Regions from separate parts of the Homo sapiens genome. Here region 1 is linked to region 2. Evidence: fine-mapped expression QTL. A gene starts in region 2. The other region holds a variant in brackets. All regions are shown on one strand. Distances are from middle to middle.

Region 1 (2,919 bases), 60 kb after region 2:
GTGAATCCTAGTGGGGCGCTTAGGTGTTGACTGGACAAGGAAAAGTTGTATGTTTCTACCAGGAAAGGGAGTAGAGGGAAGGGCATGGAGCCACTGTTTTTGGCTGTCCAATGGGGCATTGTTATTGGGGACTAACTTATGGTCCTAACGTATGGTCCTAGGTTAGGAGTGATCCTAACTTATGGACCCTCAATAGGATAAAGGGAACTACGAGCAGCAGCCTTAATGGAGGATTGAAGCAGGGAGGAGATCAAAAGGGGGCATATCACAATCTCTCTGTCCCTCTTCCTTTCACTGTGCTCACCTCAGGGCCACTTTAAAACTCTGCTTGCTTTTTTCCAATCTCTCCACTCCCTTTCTTTTTCAGGTTTGTTAATATCATCAGAATTGCTTCTGTGCTACCAAGTGAGATCAGATAACCAAGGCCTTTGTTGTGGCTTGTTTATAATGACATAGGCTTGGGTATTTTATTCCTTCAACAAGTGTTTTCTGAGAGCTTACTGTGAGATGAGCTCTGTGCTCTGGGACAGAGCTGAACAACACCAATGGGGTCACTGCCCTCATGGAGTAGCTTAAAGTCCCTGGGGCCAGGCAGGTTAAATTAGCTGACCAAGCTGACCAGGTGGTCTGTCAAAGGATTCAGCTTCATTAAACTCAAGGGCGAGAGGCTAGAAATCTGTTCTCAGGAGGAGAGCACAGGAAAGCTCTGCAGAGGACCTGGAGGGATAATTTAGGGCAGAAGAAATGAGTTCCCTAAACCAACTAATGGAACACGGATGGATGGGACAGGGCCTGCTCTGTGGACCACCTATAACTTGATACATCCTAGGAAGCCTGACAAAAGAGATCTGTAAAGTATCTTTTTCTGTAATTGTTTCTAACTAATGAAATTATCTAGTTGTTAGATTAGATTTGTTGATCCTCTCTTAAAGAGTTTCTCCAGTTTCCTTGAGGGCAAGAATCACTTGAGGCACTTTTGAAAAATATTAATTCCTGAGCCCCACCTCTGGAAAGCCTGATTCAATAGGTTTGGGGTGGGAACCAGGAATCTGTGTGAAAAAGGATCCCATGTGATTCTTACAAAAGGGTAAGTTTGAGAAACACTGTAATGGATAGCATGCAAATTAAGTCCCATGTAGCCAGCTGTGCTTTTTCAAATAGTTTGGAACAGATATTAGAGGAAATTATAAGATTCATCAAATGGGAATACAGCAGTTCCCTGTAGAATAAGCTCTGGGAATAAGCTTGCCTGAGGAAGTTTCTATTAAGAGCATGGAAAACAAACACTGGTACCAAA[C/G]AGTGGCTCCGTGCCCTTCCCTCCCCTCCACTCCCTTTCCTGGTAGAAACACCGGTACCAAACTCTTCCAGTCTTAGGGAAAACTAGTACTTCTTGATTAACAGCAAGTCTAGTCTTAAATGTTATGAGTGTATGTTACAAATATAATAAACGTCTAGGCCTCCTTTGTAACCCCATATGAGAAAATTATGGTGTAGGGTGTCTTGACTACTCTTCATTTCATGAGAGATCTCACTGGTGTTTCATAATAAGCTTGAGTTGAGGCTTCGGCTGTTTTCATTATCCTTGTCTTATATAGGAGAATCTCCTCAGGTCACAAAACTGGAAGGTGACAGAGATGAATGAAGGACCTTGATCTTTTACTCTTCTAATTCACCAAACTACCAAATGTTTCTAAAACTTCCCTTGAAGATAATGCATTTTACTTATGGGTACGAGGATATAATTATTATCCAAAATTGATTAAACTAAATGATAGAGAATTTAGGCCAGACGTCCCTGATTCCTTAAGCAGATTGTTCACAGTGCAATAGATGTTACTGAGAAATGATTCTATTTATATTATATTATAATGTTATGTATAAGTTTAAATCAGGACTCTGGTGTTAACCGTACATGTTCTGCCATGTTTTAAGAAAATGAAGAAAAAAGAGCATATACGGGCTGCTTTTAAACAAATGGCTTGACGTTTATCTACACACATACTGTTTGTCTTATGGTTGTTTCTTCCAGATCACACACAAATAGGACTATTGAAGGAGTATCAGTGAAATGAAGCTTGTAATAAAAGGTTTTATTTAAATAAAAAAGACTGACTTACTGACTTAATGTATTAGTACTAAGAGGAACACCACACTCACCCCCTTGGGATGGATTTAACAATGCCAGCATTGTAATTTTTTTCCAGGTTGGCTCCATATGAAATGGCAGTAGCAATTATCGTCTGAAATAAAACAAAAGATGTTAAAAACTCCATTGGTTTTAATAATTCCTTGTTTGTCAACCAAATAATGCTGAACTTTCTAACTACATATTCTACTTACCACAATTACTTCTATAGGAATAGGGACTGGGATTTTGTGTCTAAACCGATCATTTAATTCCTTAACTGCCATACAGACGACAATGGTGAGCAATCCAGCAGTGAAATCAGCAAGATTGGTATCACCAATATTTTGAAAAATCTCAACCAGCGTCTATAAAAAGAAAATAATTTTATATACTTCCTGCTGCTACACGCACACGAGCACACACACACGCACACACACACAATCAATTCTCATATGAATCTTCCCACATGAAAAACCATGATATCAGCATCAAACAACACTCAAAAGTTTCAGTAAAATGATAAAAATGTGTTGGTTGATACAGAGACCATTACATACATACAATTGCTGCAATATATATATACACCAAGTTTTTTATGATTGTTTACTTGGAAAGGAAAAACTGGGTGATTTCTACATTCTTATTTTTGCTTCTCTGTATTTTTTATGATAATAATAAAGATGTCTTAAAAGAAAAAATGTCATTATAAACATACTAACTTTTACTTACAGAAATGCTTTACAAGTTTATATTTTAAAATGGGTTTCTAGGTGCTATCAAGTAGCCTGATT
Region 2 (2,919 bases):
CAAACACCACCAGAGTATTTACTGAAGCTGCCCATTCTCCTTCATTTTCACCAAACCAACCTTCCCTTCCCGTCTACTGCAATCAGCTATTTTCCATCATTCTTACCTCCCTCTCTTACACCATTCTTCATAGAACAGCCTATTGTATTTTTTAAGAGACTGTGTTCCTCCTCCACTTCTGTTCAATGGCTTCATATTCACTTAAATTAAAATTCAAACGTTTACCACGGCTTTCAATGACCTGAATGATGTGCCTGCTGCCCTCCTTTCCAATCTCACTTCAGGACTCCTACCCTCTGGCTATTAGGAGGCTGCAGCTGACTTCACTGTATCTTCCTACCTCAGTGCCTTCGCACTTGCTGGAAATGCTCTTCCTCTTGCTTTTTTCCCAGGGCTGGGTTCTTCTCATCCATCAGATCTTAGCTTCCACAAAGACCATTCCTAACAACCCTCTCTGAAATTTCGTCCTATGAATCTCTCCACAGCACTCGTTTATTTTCTTCAAAATAATCCGCAAACATTAAAAAAATAATAAATTTAAAAAAAAAGAACGTATTGTCTGTGTTCCTCCATAAAACAGAAGTTCTATCACGGACCTGGTCCGTCTCGTTTACCATTCCATCTTCCATCTCCCGACCTATAGATATCTGCATGTATCTTGCATAAATAAACATACACACCTACATAAATAAACATACACACCTAATTATATAACCAAGTAGATATCTGATGAGTGAGGACAACTCAATACTCAAGAAAAAGCCTTTTTTTCTCTATTTGTGATACGGTCGCTATAAATGTATGGGGCACATAACTCCAAGAGCACTCATTCAATATCCAAGAACCACAAAGAAGCAAAAGCCAGAAAATACATAACAAAGGGTGGAGCCACTCTTACTTGGAGAAAAGTATGAGAATGCCTTGATTTTAAACTCCTCTTTGTAAATACCCTCAAATGATGAGTAAGGACCTCAGCCGAAGCGCGGGGCATGCTTTTGGTTTAGGTAGAAAAACTGCTCCGAGTTTGATTCCAAAAACTCTATCAGACTCCCTTCTTTCACCCCTCTAGTCCATAAAGGATCGGAGAGACGACAGGGGGTGACCACTGCAGCACCCGCCCAAAGCTGACTGAGACAGCAGGAAGTCTCCAACCCATTCTCGCCCGTCCACTCCCAGCGTAAAGAGGATTCCGCGACTCGGAGACCGCAATCTACCCGCCAGTCTCCATAACGTAGGCCAGAGCAGCTGGGCTAAATAAAACAGAGCCGGGGCTCTCCCTTCCCGAAGGCCTACATCGCCCACTGGTCCGGGCTCGGAGCTCAGCAGAACCAGAGTAGGAGCGGTTGTTGCCGGCACGGAGGAGGTAGGTACCACACCAGACGGTAGGCCAGGAAACCGCAGGCCCCTGCCGGGCACAGGAAGGCATCTGTGAGATTTCTTCTCACTGCCACACCCTAGTGTTGTGGGGCGAGCATAATCCCTTTTGCCTGCTGTGCGACCAGCCCCAGGCCGGCCAAGGGGGCTTGGAACCGGGACCCCCACTGCCTCCGCCTCCTTACCAGTGTGATCCATGATTCGGCTCGCAGAGCACAGTGGGAGCGGAAGTCAACCGCGCCGGAGTCGCAGCGAGCGCGTGCGCACTGCCTTCCGGAGGCCGGGAGGCGGAAGTCCAAGCAGGTTGTCCCAATTTTGGCCTGCAAAGACTTCCTTCTCTCGCCTCTACTATCCAACTCCTGTGAGGGACTCAGGCATAGTTCGGGCGGAGGCAGAAAGAGCGAGCGCGCGAAGAACTTCGGTATTGAGGTTGCTAAGGCTTCTCCTCATGTGCTTCAAGAGAAAGTAGCCTTTAACTGTGGAAAGGACACCAGGGGGACCGGGGAAGGGGAGAGCAGTGGTAAAAATGAGCCAGAAGCAGATAAGGCGACTGCCCGCCCCGCGGAGAGCTGCCTTCTGGGACTTGTAGTGCGCGGGGCCCCCGGAGCCGGCTGGCTGCGCAGGCTCGGCCGTTGCGCTGGCCCCACCCCGGCGGGCGGAGTAACGGTTTGGAATCCCCCGGGGTCAGCGAGCGCTTGTTTCCTCCGCCTGGTGTAGCAAAAGTGTAAACACGCGCGCTCCGGAAGGCGCCCTCCAGTGGGAGGTTGCTCAGGGGATGGCGGAGCTGTGAAACTCGGAGCTAGAAGGAAAGTCTCAACGCTTGTCTAAATTTTGCTTTGTCGTGACGAGCTACCTAGACCCACGCAGAGCTAACTTGGTATATGCCCCGGTTCCCATCTCTTAAGTCTCTTTACAGTTGAAACACGTTTATAATGCTTGACTGCCACTCACTTTCTAGGGAGAGCGCTTGTGACGCTACGAACCTCTCGAACACCTGACGACTGGGCGCCAGGGCCGGATGGAGGGTGGAGAGCCAGTGCGGCGCAGCTGCCTCCTCTTAACGGGGACACCTTGCAGGAATGTGCGGAGTGGAGCTAACGGGAGCGGATAGAAACCGAGGGAGGGGAAGAGAGCGCGAAGGCTTGGCCGGAAGGAGAGGTTAAAAAGGAAAGGCCTAAAATGAGGAAGAGAGTTACCACAACAAGCAGTACCTAGTTCCAGTTCTTGGTCCCAGGAGTTTGTGGTTGTTGCTGCTTTCATCTTCCTCAGCCAACACAAAAGGAAAGTGCCAAGGGGCGATTCCTAGGACCTTCAGTGCAGTCTCCACCTTGCGGACTTGGCTCATTTGTGTCCACTCCTTTCTCCAGCCTTTTACACTTGATGCTCTTGGATGAATAGAAAGGAGCACAATTAATGGAAAACACAAGCTTGGGAGTCAAGGGATTTGGGTTCTATTCTTGTCCTCCCTTGGTGACGACATCATTACCTTGGGTTATTCAAGCTTTCAGTGCCAGAGTTCCTATATCAATAAAAGATTATTACATT

What was found. PIP is the estimated chance that this variant, and not a neighbour inherited with it, causes the effect.
Region 1: its variant is the best candidate, but not a certain one, in a credible set for the expression of CBLL1-AS1 in tibial artery (GTEx, PIP 0.90).

The regions. Positions count from the first base shown.
Region 1 is chr7:107,682,776-107,685,694 of GRCh38, reverse strand. SLC26A4 (solute carrier family 26 member 4) reads right to left here. Exons shown (of 21, transcript NM_000441.2): 7 at 2,341-2,493; 8 at 2,158-2,240. Among named protein-coding and RNA genes, the nearest start is that of SLC26A4-AS1, 22 kb to the right of the region's middle. The variant C/G (reference allele first, on the strand shown) is at 1,298.
Region 2 is chr7:107,742,817-107,745,735 of GRCh38, reverse strand. It overlaps CBLL1-AS1 (CBLL1 antisense RNA 1), which reads left to right and starts at 1,155. Exons shown (of 2, transcript NR_144537.1): 1 at 1,155-1,363; 2 at 2,333-2,919. CBLL1 (Cbl proto-oncogene like 1) reads right to left here and starts at 1,594. Exons shown (of 6, transcript NM_024814.4): 1 at 1,560-1,594. The coding sequence starts at 1,572. RefSeq lists enhancers at 1,120-1,299, 1,650-1,869, 1,967-2,485, 2,486-2,919 and a silencer at 1,910-2,109.